Regions from separate parts of the Homo sapiens genome. Here regions 1, 2, 3, 4, 6 and 7 are each reported to be linked to region 5. Evidence: microRNA targets listed by miRTarBase, many of them from high-throughput screens and not tested one by one. Region 5 holds a microRNA gene; each other region holds the end of a gene's coding sequence. Distances are from middle to middle.
What was found. Region 5 holds the annotated microRNA hsa-miR-520d-3p (AAAGUGCUUCUCUUUGGUGGGU, at 1,981-2,002, shown strand). A microRNA usually pairs through its seed, bases 2 to 8, with sites in the 3' UTR of a target mRNA and lowers its output. Matches are read on the target gene's strand: a 7mer-m8 pairs with bases 2 to 8, a 7mer-A1 pairs with bases 2 to 7 and ends in A, and an 8mer does both.

Region 1 (3,000 bases), not on the chromosome of region 5:
AAAGGGCTAGAGAAGACTGGCTTTATAGCACCATATTAGACAATAGGTTCTACTGTAATCCAGTTCAAACTGCAGACCCCAATAGACAAAGCCTTACAACCTACCTCAAGAATATTTTTTACGAATCTGAAAGGTAGGAAAGAGTTATGAGTCTGTATTTTCTTGGTTCCACTGAACAAACATGTTTTTCTAGTGTTTCGCTATATTAGTTTTCTCAAGATATTTTATTTTGAAAGGTGTAACTTTTATCTCATTAAATATTTGAAATTTAAAAATTGTCATAATCTAAAATATCATACCTGAAATTAAGTTAAAGAGAATACCCAATATGCTTGAAATTATGTAAACCTATATAGTTAGTAATATCTGCTGTGAGCAGGTAAGAACTAGGATATTCTTTTCTTTTTTATTGTTATATTTTGGCAAAGTATATTTCATGTCATGATCCATTAAATAAGAATATTGAGTATTTCTGAAAAAGTAAAATGTTGGTTTGTGGTATTTCACCTTATTTTTAACATTACCAACTCATACTTTCTCCTTTCTCTATCGCCTTTACATTATTATTATAGGATGAACTTTGATAATGTTGAAGATGAAGAAAAAGTTTAAAAGAAATTCTGACAGATGACATCAGAAGACACCTATTTAGAATGTTACATTTATGATGGGAATGAATGAACATTATCTTAGACTTGCAGTTGTACTGCCAGAATTATCTACAGCACTGGTGTAAAAGAAGGGTCTGCAAACTTTTTCTGTAAAGGGCCGGTTTATAAATATTTTAGACTTTGCAGGCTATAATATATGGTTCACACATGAGAACAAGAATAGAGTCATCATGTATTCTTTGTTATTTGCTTTTAACAACCTTTAAAAAATATTAAAACGATTCTTAGCTCAGAGCCATACAAAAGTAGGCTGGATTCAGTCCATGGACCATAGATTGCTGTCCCCCTCGACGGACTTATAATGTTTCAGGTGGCTGGCTTGAACATGAGTCTGCTGTGCTATCTACATAAATGTCTAAGTTGTATAAAGTCCACTTTCCCTTCACGTTTTTTGGCTGACCTGAAAAGAGGTAACTTAGTTTTTGGTCACTTGTTCTCCTAAAAATGCTATCCCTAACCATATATTTATATTTCGTTTTAAAAACACCCATGATGTGGCACAGTAAACAAACCCTGTTATGCTGTATTATTATGAGGAGATTCTTCATTGTTTTCTTTCCTTCTCAAAGGTTGAAAAAATGCTTTTAATTTTTCACAGCCGAGAAACAGTGCAGCAGTATATGTGCACACAGTAAGTACACAAATTTGAGCAACAGTAAGTGCACAAATTCTGTAGTTTGCCGTATCATCCAGGAAAACCTGAGGGAAAAAAATTATAGCAATTAACTGGGCATTGTAGAGTATCCTAAATATGTTATCAAGTATTTAGAGTTCTATATTTTAAAGATATATGTGTTCATGTATTTTCTGAAATTGCTTTCATAGAAATTTTCCCACTGATAGTTGATTTTTGAGGCATCTAATATTTACATATTTGCCTTCTGAACTTTGTTTTGACCTGTATCCTTTATTTACATTGGGTTTTTCTTTCGTAGTTTTGGTTTTTCACTCCTGTCCAGTCTATTTATTATTCAAATAGGAAAAATTACTTTACAGGTTGTTTTACTGTAGCTTATAATGATACTGTAGTTATTCCAGTTACTAGTTTACTGTCAGAGGGCTGCCTTTTTCAGATAAATATTGACATAATAACTGAAGTTATTTTTATAAGAAAATCAAGTATATAAATCTAGGAAAGGGATCTTCTAGTTTCTGTGTTGTTTAGACTCAAAGAATCACAAATTTGTCAGTAACATGTAGTTGTTTAGTTATAATTCAGAGTGTACAGAATGGTAAAAATTCCAATCAGTCAAAAGAGGTCAATGAATTAAAAGGCTTGCAACTTTTTCAAAAACCTGTTAGAATATGCTTTATTGTGTTTTGAGGAGTTTTCCTTTTTTTCTTTTCAATATCACTTTATCCTGCTCACCAGTATTTCCTCATAAGGGTTATTATAGCCATAATTAATGTTAAAATAGACTTTGTTCTTCATATTCTCCCATCTTTTTCGCTACTATATACTCTGTCTGGATTCTGCTGTATGCCTGTTGGCATATATGGAACAGTCACCACTTGTCACACTTAACACCAGCTTTTTGAATTATGATCAGTAATGGCAAGAGCCTTTCATTCTCGAATGTTTAAAGCCTAGGAGTTCTACAAAATTGGCTTCTTTCTACAAGAATCCCAAAATGGAATGCCTAAAGAAGTCTTACTTGGGTAAATACTTACTAAAATATACTGGTTATGTGCATATCACCACACTGGACACTGAGGAGTGTTCAAAAGGAATCTAAGACATGGTCCCCATCTTCCAACTGTCTGTAATTCACTGTTTTGTCATTGAGCTCATAAGGTACTTACATTACTACCTATAAATGTTTCCTGTACTTGTTAGTTGTTGAGAAACATTTTAGGCAGTAAATAAAATAGTAAATATTATGTGTCCTATAATTTGACCTAAGCTGTGTGCCTTTGGAATCAGCTCTAAGCCAGGGCCCCCTGGGAGTCATGTTAAGAAACACGTATCATAAAGTGACATACATCAAGGTTATCTTATATAGTCATAACAGTATTATTGGGTCTTTCAAAAACAGCTGGCAGATTGAGCTTTTAATGGCTATATTGATACAGTAGATAGAGCACCTCTAAGGAGTACCAGGTATAATGTGCCATTTCTCTCAGCAACACCATTTTTGTGTGCAGCTGACCCTCTAACATGGTATCAATTCTAGCTGACCAAAGCACATTCTATCAGGCAGCCAGGCTTGGAAATTAGGTCCATTTAAAGTATGTGGCTTACAGTCAGGTATGGTGGTGTGCGCCTATTGTCCCATCTACTTGAGAGGCTGAGGCAGGAGGGATTGCTTGGGCTCAGGATTTTGAATCC
Region 2 (3,115 bases), not on the chromosome of region 5:
AGAGATATTTGGCAGAACATAATCACTTCAATATGTAATAGGTGCTAAAAATTCCTCTAAAGTTCAAAAATGTAATTTTGTACAATACAATACCCAGATTTCACAGGTAGGCTACTTCTGCATGGCTCTAAAACATTCAGAGAAAAAGTTGAAAGTGTATTTAATATTTGCATATTTCAAAATGTTCGGTATCAAACATGTTTTCTCAGTACATGCCTGTTGAAAGGTGGACACATGGGTGTATGTTCAACAAAAAGTAGATAGATAATGCCTTAAACATTGGATTGCATCTCTGTTAGGACAGTTCTCCACATTAGCACTCAAAGGGTATCATAGACTATCATAGATATATGGTTCTTTCATGATCATTCTCAAAAGCCCCATTTCAATCTGAAATTCAGATTGGGGATATTTTGGCACTGTTAACAGACAGAACTGGAACAAGACCCACCACACTCTCCTGACTCTTCCTTCAATAACCTTTCAATATTTCTCACTCTTTCTTTCTTTCTTTTTTTTTCCATTTCAGCTGAAATTCTGAACAGCAGAGTTATGGAGTATCAGAATCTTTCCATGGAAACCTCCATATGGCCTTTCTATATATATTCTCGTATGTCTTATTCTACCAACACAACAATAAGCGTGTTGCAGTCAATGTATTAAGCAAAGCAAACCTGCCAGCCAGCAAATTCAAATAAAAAATAAAGCATTAAAAATCAATGGAGATGTTAAAACAACACAAATAGAAAACTAGTAACTACCATCCATCCTATTTGAATTATCAAGCAGAACATGACCATAAAATTTGGTAACTTGTTACATTACTCTTTGTGATTTTCTAATAACCATGCTAAGTGTATTTCCACAGTGAGCTTTTGGCTTACTATATACATTCTTGGTGGATAAATTGTTCATCTGTTTTTGAAGTGTTACCTTACTATTTTGTTTACAAGATAGTCTATTGGGTTGATTCAGGATGTAACAAATATATTCAGTACCATTTCTTGTGTTGTATTGTGTTGTGCTGTGTTAGGTTTTTACATACTGTAGTGTTTTGCTGTATATGTGTGGTGTTTGATTTCAACTAAAGTGTTATTAGTGGGGAACAGAAGTATATGTGCTTAAGAACATGACAGGTTCATGCAAATATGCTCTCTTTCTTTAGAATATTTCTGTAGGTTTCTTGGGACTGACATTTAAAACGCCTCACTTTTGAATGTGCACAAAACCTGCTCATTAACATGCATGTGTATAATTTGTACCTGCAGATCTGATGTTGCATAATACAATCAAATTACTAGATTTTTTAAAGAGAGAAATAATTACCTGCACAAAGCAGAGAACTTCATAAAACATTAACCCCTAATTCACTCTTCTTAAATAGCTTGGCAAATAAGACTTTACCTTTAAATGAATTTCTCAGCATTTATACTAAAAATTATGTAAAGTGCTCATTAGATTTTTTGTGTGTGTGGCTTGAGAATCCCATCTCCTAAATTGAGTGTCTAAAACTGAGCCATTTGTCATCTTCAGCTGAGAAACTGGTACTTGGGAGCTTAAAAATATGCTAATTACAAGTTATAAATCAAACGGAGAGATGGGGGCATGGAGATAGTTTTTACGTACTGGAGGAAAGTGTGTAAAACCATGGCAATGTCACCTTTTACACAAATGCCATTTTCCAAATGCAAATGGCTCATGCTCTTTAGACTACTCTTTGAATAACAAGTAAGATGCAATCTAGCAAAAGTCAGTCAGGGTGAAAGAGAATTGGTTGCAAATGAGGACTTCCCTCCCCAAATGGACAGTCTTCTCTGTTGATCACAGAGGGAGCCTGAGTACAGGCTTGGAGAAATGGCTAGGACAGGGAACAGGGAAGCACTTACAATTATTCCTTGATTTATTCAAAAGAACTGGGAAAGATGGTTGTAGTTGTCTTTAGCTTCGGTTCAACTGAGTTTCGTTTTGTTAAACAGTTCAGTGAAGGAGAAAGCACCTGTGATATATGGCAAGTGTCCCCCTGCCCAAACTTTAACATCAGACCCTCTCACATCATAACCAAGCCTCTTTTATGCTTGTTTGGATTCGTTTGCCTTTATATATGTTTGAAAATGACAATAGAAAGGGTTTTATCACCCTTTGAATGAGACAGAGTGGCTATACTCCACAGAGCTCAGCTGAGTTCACATTACTAATATTTATGAAAGAATTTTACAACCAAATAATTCCTGTGGTGTGTGACATATCTCATCCACTCTACTCATTTATTAATGTTATTATACAGTGGTGGAAACACATGACATTTTACATCAAGTAATAGATTTAATATTTTCTAGTAAATAGGCGCTCTTCCACCAGAAAGTATAAAACCATCATATACATATATATATATATATATAATGGTTTTTCTCCTTCATGAAAATGACAAGTAAAAAGCAAATCTGATTGAGGATACCTTAAGCTGGCTAGAAGTGTTTGAATCACAGAACAATGGAATTAGCAAAATCCTTTTTATAGTTGATGGAACTGAATCCAGGGGCATATGACTTGCCCAAGGCTACCTTAGCCATTGTGGGACCCAGAAATATCTCCTGCTTCCCATTGTTCCTCCTTTTCACATTGTTTTTGCTTCAGAACATTTGATGCTCTCTTCCAAAGCAGACCCATTTGGCTCAGAATATAAGAGAGCAAAATTAGCTTTCTGGGAATTGATACTCTGTTGATCTTAATTATCCATCCAAATCCTGATCAACAGTGCTTTCTAAACAGCCTTGCTTGTATTGAGTCATTGTCAGCTGTTGACAATGTTGCGTGGAATTAGAGATCAAGAGTTGTCCTGACCTTTACCTATGGACTCTTTGAACCAGTTAATTTCTATTTCTGAAATCTTAACATTGCTATAGAAGAAAGTAGTGTATGCCTTTTTGAAATTCATCATGTATGGAACTGAGTTTTGTATGATCCGTGCCAGTGCCTCTCCAGAAGGGCAGATCTGATTACATGAATCCAGGAGGGATGCACCTGAGCTAGTCTGGATATATTCCTTAAAGGAGACAAGAACTTTTTTGTGCAAAATGAACTTTTGTGTAGTTTGACATCTGCATGCAGTGAACTG
Region 3 (3,000 bases), not on the chromosome of region 5:
AAGCTCAAGTGAGGGTCTTTACCAGAGACATACCCAGAGATTTGCTGTAACGTCTTCAGGGGAATCCAGAATTCACTTACAGAGGCTATTTCTGCCAAGTGGCTTTCCCTGGAGCAGCCCAGAGCTCTCTTTCAATCCTAAGGGGATGTCTGTCTCACTAATTTCCATCAAGAAATCTGTTTTCTTGGACAGGCACAGTGGCTCATGCCTGCAATCGAAGCATTTTGGGAGGCTGAGGTGGGTGGATCACCTGAGGTCAGGAGTTCGAGACCAGCCTGGCCAACATGGTGAAAACCCGTCTCTACTGAAAATACAAAAAATTAGCCGAGCATGGTGGCGCATGCCTGTAATCCCAGCAGCTTGGGATTGGGAAGCAGGAGAATCGCTTGAACCTGGGAGGCGGTGGTTGCAGTGAGTCAAAATTGCACCACTGCACTCCAGCCTGGGCAATAGAGTGAGACTCCATCTCAAAAAAAAAAAAAAAAAAAAAGAAAGCGACAAAAAGAAATCCATTTTCACAGGAAACCAAAAATGAGCATTTTGGACTCAGTCTGCTAAATGATTATTCCTTTCCTGATACAGATTTTGGTTTTGAGAGTCAAACAGGGATCGGCAGCACAGCGTGACTTCGGTTTTGATTCAGAACCATTTTACTAGGCTCAGAAAATCATGCTTTGTCGAGTTCTGATGGATTCCAAGGGAAATCACCTATCAGGTAAAGCTGTACTTTCTCTCACCAAGACCCTGGAGGTAGCATTTCCACTTCCATTCTTTGCCGATGGCTCCTGTGACTGAACACAGAAGCTGTTTTCTGAAATAAGACGAAAGCGTTTGTGGAAGACCCACAGAATAAAAATAGAGATACAGGTGCTTACTTTCAATTCTTTTCTTTTAAATGTAAATAATCGCTCCATGCTCCATGCCGCCACTTACCTCAGCTGAATACAAAACAGCTGAATCCTTTTGAATCCTTTGTTTTTTTCTTTTTTTGAGACAGGGTCCTGCTGTTGCCCAGGCTGGAGTGGCAGTGGTGCCATCCCAGTTCAATGAAGCCTCAAATCCCTGGGCTCAAGGGATCCTCCCGTCTCAGCCTCCTGAGTAGTAGGGACTACAGGCACGCACCACCACATCAGCTCCGGGCGACAGAATGAGGCTCCTTTTTTAAAAAAAAAAAAAAAAAAAAACTGACTCTGAAGCTTAAAACCTTCACCTTTAGGAAGAAATCGTATTTGTTTGTTTGAGACCGAGTTTCACTCTTGTTGCCCAGGCTGGAGTGCAATGGTGTGGTCTTGGCTCACCGCAACCTCCGCCTCCCAGGTTCAAGAGATTCTCCTGCCTCAGCCTCCCAAAGACCTGGGATTACAGACGTGCATCACCATGCCTGGCTAATTTTTGTATTTTTAGTAGAGACAGGGTTTCACCATGTTGGCCAGGCTGGTCTTGAACTCCTGACCTCAGGTGATCTGCCTGCCTTGGCCTCCCAAAGTGCTAGGGTTACAGGTGTGAGCCACTGTGCCCGGCCTGAGGAATCGTATTTGGATTACTCATCTCTCCGGCCACTTTACTTACAAAAAACTAAACTAAGAAGTAAATAAGCCAGAACCCCTCCCTACTCATCCCCTTTGGTCTCCCCAAGAAGAGGAGGATTCTAAGAAAGGAGCTGGAGAGACAGTGGGGTCTTCGGGGGTTCCCTGAGACGCCTCTTCCTGCCCTTGTTCCAGCTTTGGAATTGGAAGGAGGGAACCTGTGTCTGAAGTGATTGACAGGTGGGGACAGGAGTGTGGATTCTGGCCTGTGCTTGACACTCAAACCCAAGCTACGGCAAGGGTTAGCAGCCCATGGAGGGAGAGGCCAGGAGGCCCGGGGAGACTGCTGTCCCTGAGCAGCTGCGCCGGGCTGTGCTTGCCCCTGGTGGTCACCATGCAACCTCAGGGGAACCTTCAACCTGGTGAATGGCAACTGGTTCCTCTGTTGAGCAAAGTCTCCAAGGAAAGCCGGGTTCTCCAGAGAATCTTAACACCCTGACCAGCCGGGAATCTGCTCCATGATGTGTGGATGGGGACACATCTCTGAGGGCCCCTGACAGCTTATTTAATCACACAGAGGATAGGTGCACAGATGTGGGTCCCTCAGATTGTAAACAGTGCTGTGTGGTCCTCAGGACATCAAGGTCCACTGGGTGGGGGCACTGTGGCCACAGCTGTGGGCCACCGGCTTCCCGAATCTCACTGCTACCCTTATGCAGATGAACGCCCACCCGTGGGCCAGGACGCTGGTACCGGTGGAACTTGCTGCCTGAGGATCTAGGAGGTAGAAGAAGCTGAGTTGGCAGCTGCTCTCCCAATGGAGCCGAGAGCATCAATAGCGGGGGCTTCTGGTGCAGCAGACATGCACTTCTGCCCCTGCAGCAGGGACTCACAGAAGTGCCTACCCCCAGGAAGGCAGCACCTATGCACAGAACTAGAAAGGACAAAAGCTCAGGTGCTTGGAAGTTCCCCTGGGGTCCCTTGGGATTCCTGAGATTCTCCTGGCTTGGAAGGCGCGGGAGCCTTGGGAGTGCCAGCCGGGCTCTTGGTGGGAGGCTGAGAAGAGCAGCAGCAGCAACAGAGAGAGAAGAGCCGAGTTCGGACGGCGCGGGTGCAGAGGACGAACATGATGCAGTTGGCACCTCCCTGAAACGTGTTCCCGATACCCTGTCGGGAGAAAAGGAGCTGTGAGCATGGGGCTGGAGTTGGTCTCAGAAACACACGCGCTGTTGCAATTAAGAGAAACGGCTAGGCTGGGTGCGGTGGCTCACACCTGTAATCCCAGCCCTTTGGGAGGCTGAGGTGGGCGGATCACTTGAGGTCAGGAGTTGAAGATCAGCCTGGCCAACAAGGTGAAACCCTGTCTCTACTGAAAATACAAAAATTAGCTGGGCATGGTGGTGGGCGCCTGTAGTCCCAGCGACACGGAGGCTGAGGCAGGAGAATCGCTTGAACCCAGGAGGCGGAAGTTGCA
Region 4 (3,115 bases), 15 Mb from region 5:
CCTGGAGCTTCTTGGATGCCTTCTACTTCTGCTTTATCTCTCTGTCCACCATCGGCCTGGGCGACTACGTGCCCGGGGAGGCCCCTGGCCAGCCCTACCGGGCCCTCTACAAGGTGCTGGTCACAGGTGAGCTGGGTGGCTAGGGCAGGGCTTTGAGGAGGACCTAGCCCTGTCCCTGGGGGAGTTAAAGGCTCACAGTCCCACTCTGGGACTTCCAAAAGGGATCCAACCCCACCCTGCAGGGTCCAGTAGAACTGCGGCCCCGCCTGGAAAATCTGAGCCCCAGGATGACCAACGCCCCTTCTCCGCCTTTACAGTCTACCTCTTCCTGGGCCTGGTGGCCATGGTGCTGGTGCTGCAGACCTTCCGCCACGTGTCCGACCTCCACGGCCTCACGGAGCTCATCCTGCTGCCCCCTCCGTGCCCTGCCAGTTTCAATGCGGATGAGGACGATCGGGTGGACATCCTGGGCCCCCAGCCGGAGTCGCACCAGCAACTCTCTGCCAGCTCCCACACCGACTACGCTTCCATCCCCAGGTAGCTGGGGCAGCCTCTGCCAGGCTTGGGTGTGCCTGGCCTGGGACTGAGGGGTCCAGGCGACCAGAGCTGGCTGTACAGGAATGTCCACGAGCACAGCAGGTGATCTTGAGGCCTTGCCGTCCACCGTCTCTCCTTTGTTTCCCAGCATCTGGCTGGGATGTGAAGGGCAGCACTCCCTGTCCCCATGTCCCGGGCTCCACTGGGCACCAACATAACCTTGTTCTCTGTCCTTTCTCTCATCCTCTTTACACTGTGTCTCTCTGGCTCTCTGGCATTCTCGCTGCCTCTGTCTTTCCCTCTTGCTGTCTCTGTTTCTCATTCTCTTTCATGTTCCGTCTGTGTCTCTCAATTAACCACTCGTCAACTGCTGATTCTACTGGGCTGTGGGCTCAGACCTCATTTCAGGCACCAGATTGGTCGCTACACCCTGGACAAGTGACTGCCCGTCTCTGAGCCTTGATTTCCTCAGCTGCCAAATGGGAAGAATAGAAGAATTTGCCCCTAAACCCCTCCTGTGTGCTGGCCCTGTGCTAGACAGTGCTGGAGACATAGTTGGGGGTGGAGAACTGCCCTTATGGAGCTTGCAGTCCAGTGAGGTGGACAGACCTGTCCCCAGACAGTGATGGCCCAAAATGGTCAGGACTTTAATGGAGGAGGTGAGGTGTTGAAAGCACAGGCAGAGTGGTCAGGGCTGAAGTCGGAGAAGCATAGGGACTAGGCCCAATCCAGCCTGGAAAGTCAGGGAGGACTTCCTAGAGGAAGGGACATCGAACTAAGACCTGAACTATGAGAAATAGGCAGGAAGAAGTTGTACCTGACTCATTTTTCTCAGGTGTCTCCAGGGAGCAGGACCCATGGAGGGACCCCTGGTGTAGGCCTGGGCGATAGACTCTTCCTCAGCAGCCTGGCAGGCAGGAAACAGACATAGGACCCCAGCCCAGATCTGAATGGCATGGGAGGTGCTGCCCTTAACCATGACACCATTGTAAGAGCTGTCCACATTTGTATGTTGTGCCCTGGAATCAGCCTGGTTGAGCTCAAATCCCAACTTAGCCACGTCTGGCCTGTGTCCTTGGGCAGTCACACTACCTCTCTGATTTTGTTTCCTTATCTGTAAAATGGTGATCATCATAATACAACTTCAAAAGGATTTCAGGCTGAGTGTGGTGGCTCACGCCTATACACCCAGCACTTTGGAAGGCTGAGGAAGGAGGATCGCTTGAGGCCAGGAGTTTGAGACTAGCCTAGGCAACACAGTGAGGCCTTATCTCAACAACAACCACAAAATCTAAAAATTAGCTGGGTGTGGTGGTGCATGCCTGTGATCCTGGCTACTTCAGAGGCTGAGGTGGAAGGATCACTTGAGGCCAGGAGTTTGAGGCTGCAGTGAGTTATGATGGCACTGCTGCACTCCAGCCTGCGGGACAGAGTGAGACCCTGTCTGAAAGAAAGAGAGAAAGAAAGAAAGAAAGAGAGAGAAAGAAAGAAAGAAAGAAAGGGAAAGATGGAAGGAAGGAAGGAAAAAGAAAGAGAAAGAGAGAGAGAGAGAAAGAAAAAGAAAGAAAAGTAAGAAAGAAAAAAGAAAAAGAAAGAAAAGTAAGAAAGAAAAAAAGAAAAAGAAAGAAAGTAAGTCCTGGCTAACACGGTGAAACCCTGTCTCTACTAAAAATACAAAAAATTAGCCAGGCGAGGTGGCAGGCGCCTGTAGTCCCAGCTACTCGGGAGGCTGAGGCAGGAGAATGGCGTGAACCCCGGTGGGGGCGGAGCCTGCAATGAGCCGAGATCGCGCCACTGCATCCAACCTGGGTGACAGCAAGACTCCGTCTCAAAAAAAAAAAAGAAAGAAAGAAAAGAAAAGAAGGAAAGAAGCGGGGCACAGTGGCTCAGTCCTGTAATCCCAGCACCTTGGGAAGGCCAAGGTGGGAAGATCACTTGAGGCTAGGAGTTTGAGACAAGCCTGGCCAACATAGCAAGACCCCATCTCTACAAAAATAAAAATTTTAAAAAGGGCTGGGGCATTTGAGCTGGGTCCCAACAGTAGACAAGTAGAAAAGGCATGGAGAGGGCATACCAGGTGGGAGGAGCTGTGTGCAAAGGCCTGGAGATGGAAAAGCATGCTGGCCACCAGCTTCTGACAAGCAGTTTAGTATGAACGGTATGCAGGGAAAGAGGGAAGGAGGGCAGAGGGGTGCGCACGAGCACCCGTTAGTGTCCTTAAATGACCAGCATGGGAACCTGGTCTCTTTCCTGAGGGCCCTAGAGAGCCATGGAAGGGTTTAGAGTAGGAGTGGGTCATGGTTAGGTTTGGGTTTTAGGATGATCCCCCTAGTTGCTCTGGAGAGGTGGAGCAGAGCGGGTACTGAGGCTGGGTGCCTGTGGGAGGCTGAGGCAGGAATGAAGAGGGAGACGATGGGCCTGGGCTGAGCCATGGAAGGGAGGAGGGGTGAGTGCGGGCACACTCAGGAGCCAAGTGGACAGGCCATAGCCCCCACAGACTGGAGGGACGCGGCTAGGGAATGTCCCACAGAGTGGCCAGTTATCCCTGAGAGAAAGAGCAGGTTTTAGCGGAGACGCT
Region 5 (3,115 bases):
TTGGGAGGCTGAGACAGGAGGATCACCTGAGGTCGGGAATTTGATTCCAGCCTGGCCAACATGGTGCAGCCCCATCTCTACTAAAAATACAAAATTAGCCCAGCATGGTGGTGGTATATGCTTGTAATCCCAGCTACTCTGGAGGCTGAGGCAGGAGAGTCGCTTGAAGCTGGAAGGCTGATCTTTCAATGAGCTGAGATCACGCCACTGCACTCAAGCCTCGGCAAAAAGAGTGAGACTCCATCTCAAAAACATAAAAAATAGGCCAGACACGGTGGTCCACTCCTGTAATCCCAGCACTTTGAGAGGCCAGGACAGGCGGATCTCCTCAGGTCAGGAGTCCAAGACTAGCTGGGCAAACAAGGCAAAACCTCGTCTATACTAAAATTAGGAAAAATGGCTGGGAACAGTGGTGGACACCTGTAATCTCAGCTACTTGGGAGGCCACGGCAAGAGAATCTCTTGAACCTGGGAAAAGGAGATTGCAGTGAGACGAAATCACACCATTGTACTCCATCCTGGGTGACAGAGTGAGATTCTGTTTCAAAAATTAAATAAATAGGCCGAGCACAGTGACTCATGCCTGTAATCCCAGAACTTTGGGAGGCCGAGGTGGCGGATCACCTGAGGTCGGGAGTTCAAGACCAGCCTAACCAACACGTAGAAACCCCATCTCTACTAAAAATACAAAATTAGCCGGGCATGGTGGCGCATGCCTGTAATCCCAGCTGCTCGGGAGGTTGAGGCAAGAGAATCACTTGAACCCCAGGGGGCGGAGGTTGTGGTGAGCCGAGATTGTGCCATTGTATTCCAGCCTGGGCAACGAGTGAAACTCTGTCTCTAAATAAATAAATAAAACTATTAAATAAACATTAAACGTTAAAAAATAAAAATAGATAAATATGAGATCATCATGAATTTGAGTGTCACCTTTGCGCAGGGCCCATGGTAATCTTTGTCATTCCAATTTTTTCATGCGTGCTGCCAAAGCTAGCACTTGTGTGTAGGAAGTATTCTTCCTGTGAGCATACAATATATGGAAGTTTCTTTTATTATTATTATTTTTTATGTTTTTGCGACTGAGTTTTGCTCTTGTCGCATAGGCTGAAGTGCAATGGTGTGATCTGGGCTCCCTGCGATGTCCACCTCTTGGGTTAAAGCGACTCTCCTACCTCAGCCTCCTGAGTAGCTGGGATTACAGGCATACACTTCCAGGGCTAGCTAATTTGTTGTATTTTAGTAGACGGGATTTCTCCATGTTGGTCAGGCTGGTCTCAAACTCCCGACTTCAGGTGATCTGCCCACCTTGGCTTTCCAAAGTACTGGGATTGCAGACAGCCACCGCGGCTGGCCTTCATATATTCTTATATATATAATATCATGTACACACAAAAGACTCTTTTACACCCTGAGAATACTCTTATATCACTTTGGGCATTTTTTTGTTGGTGTGTGCATTTTTTGTTTGTTCGTTCGTTTGTTTTTGAGACAAGATCTGGCCCTGTCACCTATGCTGGAGTGCAGTGGTGTGATCTCGGCTCCCGGCAACCTCAACCTCCCACCTCAGCCTCCTGAATTAGTGTCTACAGGCATGCACCTCTATACCTGGCTAACTTTTGTATTTTTACAGATGAGGTTTTACCATGTTTCCCAGGCTGGTGTCTAACTCCTGAGAATATAAGGTATATGTAGTAGGCGTTGCTTTTTCTCTTTGAAGACAAAACCCAGGACAGTTGTCCCTCGATGAACAAGGCTAACCTGCTGAACGTTTGAAGCAAGGAACTGGAGATGGTCTTTGTATCGGTTTATGTTCTAGATTCCAGAAAATATGCAAACAGGACCAATAAATGCATCTTTATTTTTGTGTCCATTTTGACCAGGTCAAGGAAAATTTCAACAAGAAACCCAGAGTGCCGGAGCAAGAAGATCTCAAGCTGTGAGTCTACAAAGGGAAGCCCTTTCTGTTGTCTAAAAGAAAAGAAAGTGCTTCTCTTTGGTGGGTTACGGTTTGAGAAAAGCAACGTTGAAGTTGATGCTGATTTCGGTAATACATTTGCAGAGCATGCTTATCACACTTGGACGATGGTGGGGTTCTGTTTTGGTTTTGCTTTTTTATTCTAAGGCTCTGTGTTGCTCATGCTGGAGTGCAGTGACATGTCCAATATATCTCTTGGCTTCAAATGGTCAGCCTGGGCAACACAGGGAAATTCTGTCTCAAAAAATAAACAAATGAATAAAAATACAAAATAAAGCCGGGCATGGTGGCTCATGCCTGTAATCCCAGCACTTTGGGAGGCCGATGCAGGTAGATCATCTCAGGTCAGGAGTTTGAGACCAGTCTGACCAACGTGGTGAAAATCCGTCTCTACTAAAAATACAATAACAACAAAAATTAGCCCAGTGTGGTGGTGGGCACCTGTAATCCCAGCTACTTAGGAGGCTGAGGCAGGAGAATTGCTTGAACCCGGGAGGCAGAGGCTGCAGTGAGCCGAGATTGTGCCACAGCATCCAGCCAGGATGACAGAGTGAGATTCCGTCTGAAAAAAAAAAAAAAAAAAAAAAGCTGGGCGCTGTGGCTCACGCCTGTAATCCCACCACTTTGAAAGGCCGAGGCGGGTGGATCACGAGGTCAGGAGATCGAGACCATCCTGGCTAACACGGTGAAACCCCATCTCTATTTAAAAATACAAAAAATTAGCGAGGCGTGGTGGTGGGTGCCTGTAGTCCCAGCTACCCGGGAGGCTAAGGCTTGAGAATGGCTTGAACCCAGGAGGCGGAGCTTGCAGTGAGCCGAGATCGTGCCATTGCACTCTAGCCTCGGCAACAGAGCAAGACTCCGTCAAAAAGAAACAAAAACAAAAACAAAAAAAAGAACCCTACAGTACTGGAGCAAGAAGACCTCATGCTGTGACCCTCTAGATGGAAGCACTGTCTGTTGTCTAAGAAAAGATCGTGCATCCCTTTAGAGTGTTACTGTTTGAGAAAAGCAACGTTGAAGATGCTGCTGATCTTGGTAATACATTTGCAGAGCGTGCTTATCATCAGACTTGCATGATGTTGGGGTTCTCTTTGGTTTGTTTTTTTCCAAGACAGGTTCCCTGTTGCCCAGGCGGGA
Region 6 (3,099 bases), 21 Mb from region 5:
CTAAAAACTGTCCCAAAGTGCTGCTTCCTAATAGGAATTCATTAACCTAAAACAAGATGTTACTATTATATCGATAGACTATGAATGCTATTTCTAGAAAAAGTCTAGTGCCAAATTTGTCTTATTAAATAAAAACAATGTAGGAGCAGCTTTTCTTCTAGTTTGATGTCATTTAAGAATTACTAACACAGTGGCAGTGTTAGATGAAGATGCTGTCTACAAGGTAGATAATATACTGTTTGATACTCAAAACATTTTTCATTTTGTTTAAAGTAGAAGTTACATAATTCTATATTTTAAGTCTTGGGTAAAAAAGTAGTTTTACATTTTATAAAGTAAAGATGTAAATGATTCAGGTTTAAAGCTCTATTTGACTTCCTTTTTTTGTTTGAGATAGCGTCTTGCTGTGTTGCCCAGGCTGGAGTGCAGTGGTGTGATCTCAGCTCAGTGCAACCTCCGCCCCCTGGGATCAAGCGATTCTCCTACCTCAGCCTCCCAAATAGCTGGGACTACAAGGTGCCCTCCAGCATGCCTGGCTGATTTTTGTATTTTTAGTTGAGGTGAGGTTTCACCATGTTGGCCAGGCGGGTTTCGAAATCCTGACCTCAAATGATCCACCCACCTCAGCCTCCCAAAGTGCTGGGATTACAGGCATGAGCCACCACAACCGTCCCACTATTTTACTTTTTAAAATGACATTCCTACTGATTGATTTTTATCTTGCTATAAGTTCGATGACACCGTGAATCTAATAAGGTTCACTGTTGACACAGTACAAGTTACATAGCTAAAATACATAGCATTGAAGACTAATTTTAAGGATTGACAAGAGTTTATTTTCTATTGTGCAATATCTTAAAGGAAGCAACCACCTTTGGGAAAGTGTATCTGCTGCTCCTAGGGCCATGCTTGTATACATATTTAAATAAACATATTCATTTACCCGAGTTAATATTTCTTTTTACTTTTATTTCATTTTCATTCCCTCCTCTTTCAAATTGTTTCTCCCCAATGCACACAGTTTCTAATGTTCTGATTTTTTTAGTTACTAACATTTCACAAAGCAGAACTTAAAAAGCTGTCAAGTTATCTTAGTATTTTCTAAGACAGATGGTATCTTTGTGCTTATTTTTTGTTTTTGTCTTTTTTTCAAGACAGGGTCTCGCTTTGTCACCCAGGCAGGAGGACAGTGGCGCAATTGTGGCTCATGGCAGCCTCAACCTTCCGGGCTCAAGCAATCCTCCCACCTCACCCTCCTGAGTAGCTGGGACTACAGGCATGAGCCACCATGCCTGGCTAATTTTTTTGATTTTTTTGTAGAGATGGGGTCTTGCCATGTTGCCCAGGCTGATCTCGAAATCCTGGACTCAAGCAATCCTCCCACCTCAGCCTCCCAAAGTGCTGGGACTACAGGTGTGAGCCACTGTGCCTGGCCTGTGTCTATTTTTTGAATGGGCAATTTGTACCTTTTGATCCCCAGCCCCTGCTTCCCTCACTAGATGCAGCTGCTGCCATCATTTTCTTGTATCCTTCCATTGTTGGGCCTTTCATATACAAACACAGCCTGTTCTGCCTCATGCATGTTGAGTTTTCAACTTTAAATTTTTTTTTTTTTTTTTTGAGATGGAGTCTCACTCTGTCATCCAGGCTGGAGTGCAGTGGTGCAATCTCGGCCCATTGCAACCTCCACCTCCTGGGTTCAAGCGATTCTCGTGCCTCAGTCTCCTGAGTAGTTGGGATTACAGGTGTGTGCCACCACACCCAGCTAATTTTTGTATTTTTAGTAGAGACAGGGCTTCACCATGTCGGCCAGGATGGTCTGGATCTCCTGACCTTGTGATTCACCCCCCTTGGCCTCCCAAAGTGCTGGGATTACAGGTGTGAGCCACTATGCCCGGCCGTTGAGTTTTCAACTTTAAGTGGGAACTTCAGACTTCATACTTTCTGTGTGCAGAAGACATATGCAGTGATTATAAACAAACTGTACATCTGCCAAAAAAAAAGGCCGGGGGGAGGGAGGAACAAAGGAAAGGAGGAAGGAACTGTTGCGCAGTTATTTATTTACATTGGAAACAGCCCTCGCAGTACGGGTATATGAAGGCCAGACCTGATGAACAGCAGGTGAAACTCTGGGAACCCAGGGCTTAGGATACACAGTGCTTCCTTGTACATTTGTTTCCTTCAGATGGTCACATCCACCACTGAAGCTTTTTAGAAGGCACTTTCCATGACAGATGCAGGTCAAGGTCGCACATTAAAATCGGCCCTAATGCTTTTTGCTGAGTGTGAGTCCCTGACTCTCTTGCGAAGATCCCACCAGCCCTTTTCGTCTTAGCAGAATGAAGGCAGTGCCCTCTGCGGCCCACTAACTTCACAAGCTGAACTCAGACGCTAAGGCAGGACGACCCACGGGCTCCATTCAAGCCTCGCCTCATCTTTCACTGGTTGCTGCTGGAGAAAATCCTTTTTCTTTTTTTTTTTTTTTTGTTGTTTTCTTTGAGACGGAGTCTCGCTCTGGTGCCCAGGCTGGAGTGCAGTGGCACGATCTCAGCTCACTGCAACCTCCGCCTCCCGGGTTCAAGTGATTCTCATGCCTCGGCCTCCCAAGTAGCTGGGATTACAGGCACCTGTCACCATGCCTGGCTAATTGTTCCTATTTTTAGGGGTTTCTCCATGTTGGCCAGGCTGGTCTTGAACTCCTGACCTCAGATGATCCGCTGTCTTCGGCCTCCCAAAGTGCTGAGATTAGAGGCGTGAGCCAGTGCACCCGGCCCATTCTCTTGGTTTTTAAAGCTGAAAACAAGATCCTGGTGTTTGTGGTCTCAGGAGAAGATGCCGTGGCCCTGAGGCCAGCCCTCACCTGGGCTGCGTGAAGAAGGCATGGATCTGCTGTGCCACTGCTTGTCCGACCACCTGCTCCAGTTCCCCAATGGAAGCATTACTCAGTTGCTGGATGCTTGGAAACTTCTGGAGGAGAAGGGGAGCTTTAACTTTTCCAACTCCTGGGATCTGCTGCACGGTTCGAAGGAGCGAAGGCTCAGACAGCAGCAGGGCCCGTTTCTTCCCGAGAAGAGGGTTCTTACTGGGCTCTTTGGTTTG
Region 7 (3,097 bases), not on the chromosome of region 5:
ATGAATTATGGAGGTGGAAGAAAGGGTAGAAGCAGAGAACCAAAATACTGAATATAAAATAATATTTAAACACAATATGTAAGTCAAAATCATACATGTACACATATATATGTACAGAGTCCGTCTTATCTTCTAAAACTATGTAGTTCTCAAAATTGCTTACCCAGTGAAATATGTTTTAGCAAAAATAGGTCAGAAAATCATTTTAATACTCTCTAAAACATTTTCAGACTTTTAGAAATTGTTGATAGAACCTTTTGTTTGGTGTGGCTGTCTCTAGCTAAATGATGTCCCTGTCTGAGCCACAGCTTGACATAGGGAGCCCCTCATAACCTTTCGTTGACATGCCCATTATATTGACAGTCATTAGGTCCTTGACACTCAGCGTTTAGTTGCAGCTGGAAGGTGGCTGGGGGAACTTCCCGTACTCCATAGCTAGCTTTGCCCCTGGTGCCAGGGAATTCTCTAGACCCTGGACTCAGAAATTTTGCATCTCAGCTCCACTATGTCCTGACATCACCTGTTGCACAGCCTGTGTCACCTCTACAAAGTTGGGCTACTACTGAGCAGCAGGAAGGCACTATCCATGTTCTTACTGCTGGATTGTGTGGCAGCTACCTCTGGGTCTGCTCAGCTGCCCTGGGGTGGGAAGGTGGGAACCTGCATCTGTTCCAGAACTGCTTTGAGGTCTGATATCCACCTCCATAGTTGCTGTTGGGTTAAGTTTTATTAAGATAGTCTTTAGCAACCTAGACAGAAATGTTTTAATATTCAAACAATTGGTACAGATGCATGCATATATACAGTATCCTTGCTTGGACTATGAAGGAAGTGGTGGAGTAAAGAGAATTGGTCATATTCTGGATATATTTTGAAGGCAGAGCCGAGAGGTAATTGCTAATGGATGGCATGTAGGGTATGAAAGAGGCAGCAAGAATGACTTCCAGGTCATGGCTTGATGCCTGAGTGATTGGAAGAAAGACTGGGAGGAGGGCAGCTTTTGTGAGTGAGAATGAAGTATTTGGTTTTAGACCTAGTAAGTTTGAAATGCTTGTTCAATCTCCAAGTGGAGCCTCAGGTGCCTGTTTGATCTGTGAGTCTGGAGTTCAGAGGAACAGTTAGAACCCTTTCAGGAATGATTAACTCAATGACGTGATAAACAGTTTCTGTTCACCTGGTTGGAATCATGAGTCTTAAGATAGAACATTTCATAATTACCTATTTCAATGTTCATAAATACAAACCCCCAAATCTGTGTGAAAGATTTCACAATAGCTCAGCTTTCTGATGTTTAGCTATAAAATGTAAGAATAAAAGCATATATAGTTTATTAACCTAGTACTTCTCTCTCCTGTCTCATCCCTTCCTTGAAGAAGCAGGCACTAAATATGCTTAAATGAAGCTTTGATAGAAAATCTCACTTTAGCAAATGAGATGATGCTAAATCTATAAATGCCAAGCCTAAATTCAGATACTACTGGGAAGGAAGTATAGTTTTAAGATGGGAGATTGAAGATTAAAAAAAAAAGCTTATAGGATTTTTATGGTATGTCAGGCTTAGATTGAAAAACCAAGAGGACATTTTAAAACCTGAAATAAAATCAAAACAAAGCAAAAAAAAGCTAGTTTTGGAGCAAACAGACTTGAGAGAGAGGAATCTCAGAGTGAGTGTTATCACTTTGACATCTCTTTTACATGGCTCTAAAAACATCTTGAGTTTTAACTTGGGATGATTTTGTGAAAGAGGAATCACAAAACTACAGTGAGTACAAAGAAAATGTTTTAATAAAATATTCAATACAGTATTTCCCTGTGGGGATTCTAGAAGAAGAAGTGAGATGCTGAAGGAAGTGACTGTCACTGTGGGGAACCCAGTCCTAAATGAGACAAGACTTAGCTTTCCTTCAAAGACACCTTGTCCAGCTCTGCCCAACAGGCCGCAATGAGATGGACCAGGAAACCTTCAGGAGTCACCGACAGACAAAGCGAATGAACTGAATCCACTTACAAACAGATCCACTTAAGCAGTTTTTGCCTCAGGCTTCCTACCAAATGCAGTTATCATGGAGACAGGAGAAGGCTGATGTACAAAACGCATTAACATGATTTTGTTTTTTCCCCTCCTATTCTATTTGCATTTCCAGAGTGATCATTAGTAACACAGCGATCTGGGTTTCACCAACTAAGCATTTCAAACAGACTCATTTCTTGACCAAATTTTGTGCTCAAGGCCTGTTACTATTAGTGTAATTCTTGTGTTTCAAATTGAGAGAAACGAGCATACCCACCCCTGCACATAACTTAAGTATATCACTGCGAATTCTACATGTATGAAACAAGCATAAGCCATGAATCCTCCACTTGGTGTGTTACTTTTTATTACTACAGAAAGTGCTGTTGCTTGAATATGAATATCATTTAGTGTAATAAAATGTAGAAGGACACATTATTGTGTTCCAGCTCTGGTTCAGTCTGGCAGTGCCCAGCATAAACCGTCAAAACTTGATAAAAGACTGTCTTGGGGTTATCTTGCTGTCATGATTCCGATGTGTTTTGATTTCCTTCTGGAGTCATAAATTGCACCTTTGGTACCATGAGGGAAGAATTGTTCCTTCGGATAGAATTGTTCCTCCTCATGGAATTGTTTCTTCTCATGGAGTTGCGCTTCCTCAGAGAATTTTGATGAGACAGTTCACTCTTTTGGAGGGTCTGAATAAGGATGGAAGGTTTCTCATCCAGCTCTCGGGCACTGCACCGTGGAGCAGCTACTTTAACAGTGTTGCCAAATTTGGAGTAATCCACAGAATACACTCCTTCTTCCTCAGTCACAATGGACACAAAGCGGTGGCCCCATTGGATCTCCTCAGCAATGTAGGAGGTTCGTGCTTGTGTGGTGATGCCAGTAGTTTCAACCACTCCTTCCAGAATAACTATGACCTCCAAGTCTTGGTTGGCCAGGTCAGTTGCTGAGATGTCATACAGGGGACTGCGCTTGTCAATCACGTGGCAGATGATCAAAGGGGCCACCAGAAAAATGTTATTGCTCTCGATTGGGTTATCAACAGGAATGTCCAGTTGGTGAATAGGAACCACCTCC

Region 1: miRTarBase lists DNAJC10 as a target of hsa-miR-520d-3p. The part of its 3' UTR that is shown has no 7-base or 8-base seed match.
Region 2: the mRNA of MBNL3 is a reported target of hsa-miR-520d-3p. Seed matches in the 3' UTR shown: 8mer at 1,878-1,885.
Region 3: the mRNA of GPR157 is a reported target of hsa-miR-520d-3p. Seed matches in the 3' UTR shown: 7mer-m8 at 1,484-1,490.
Region 4: the mRNA of KCNK6 is a reported target of hsa-miR-520d-3p. Seed matches in the 3' UTR shown: 7mer-m8 at 1,728-1,734.
Region 6: the mRNA of FAAP24 is a reported target of hsa-miR-520d-3p. Seed matches in the 3' UTR shown: 7mer-m8 at 2,735-2,741, 7mer-m8 at 1,862-1,868 and 7mer-m8 at 1,397-1,403.
Region 7: miRTarBase lists KCNJ8 as a target of hsa-miR-520d-3p. Seed matches in the 3' UTR shown: 7mer-m8 at 2,390-2,396.

Annotation. Positions count from the first base shown.
Region 1 is chr2:182,776,549-182,779,548 of GRCh38, forward strand. It overlaps DNAJC10 (DnaJ heat shock protein family (Hsp40) member C10), which reads left to right. Exons shown (of 24, transcript NM_018981.4): 24 at 573-3,000. The coding sequence ends at 584. Among named protein-coding and RNA genes, the nearest start is that of DNAJC10, 62 kb to the left of the region's middle.
Region 2 is chrX:132,377,092-132,380,206 of GRCh38, reverse strand. MBNL3 (muscleblind like splicing regulator 3) reads left to right here. Exons shown (of 9, transcript NM_001386889.1): 9 at 530-3,115. The coding sequence ends at 541. The region is part of intron 2 of RAP2C-AS1 (RAP2C antisense RNA 1); the gene reads right to left. Among named protein-coding and RNA genes, the nearest start is that of MBNL3, 110 kb to the left of the region's middle.
Region 3 is chr1:9,101,942-9,104,941 of GRCh38, forward strand. It overlaps GPR157 (G protein-coupled receptor 157), which reads right to left. Exons shown (of 4, transcript NM_024980.5): 4 at 1-2,693. The coding sequence ends at 2,478. Among named protein-coding and RNA genes, the nearest start is that of GPR157, 26 kb to the right of the region's middle. RefSeq lists an enhancer at 2,158-3,000.
Region 4 is chr19:38,326,863-38,329,977 of GRCh38, forward strand. KCNK6 (potassium two pore domain channel subfamily K member 6) reads left to right here. Exons shown (of 3, transcript NM_004823.3): 2 at 1-126; 3 at 318-3,115. The coding sequence ends at 541. Among named protein-coding and RNA genes, the nearest start is that of CATSPERG, 7.4 kb to the right of the region's middle.
Region 5 is chr19:53,718,169-53,721,283 of GRCh38, forward strand. It overlaps MIR520D (microRNA 520d), which reads left to right and starts at 1,928; the gene lies at 1,928-2,014. It overlaps MIR517B (microRNA 517b), which reads left to right and starts at 2,908; the gene lies at 2,908-2,974. It also overlaps the pseudogene RNU6-803P.
Region 6 is chr19:32,976,440-32,979,538 of GRCh38, reverse strand. It overlaps FAAP24 (FA core complex associated protein 24), which reads right to left. Exons shown (of 5, transcript NM_152266.5): 5 at 1,310-3,099. The coding sequence ends at 2,857. RHPN2 (rhophilin Rho GTPase binding protein 2) reads left to right here. Exons shown (of 15, transcript NM_033103.5): 15 at 1-947. Among named protein-coding and RNA genes, the nearest start is that of FAAP24, 5.7 kb to the right of the region's middle.
Region 7 is chr12:21,763,188-21,766,284 of GRCh38, forward strand. KCNJ8 (potassium inwardly rectifying channel subfamily J member 8) reads right to left here. Exons shown (of 3, transcript NM_004982.4): 3 at 1,768-3,097. The coding sequence ends at 2,536. The region is part of intron 2 of KCNJ8-AS1 (KCNJ8 antisense RNA 1); the gene reads left to right. Among named protein-coding and RNA genes, the nearest start is that of KCNJ8, 10 kb to the right of the region's middle.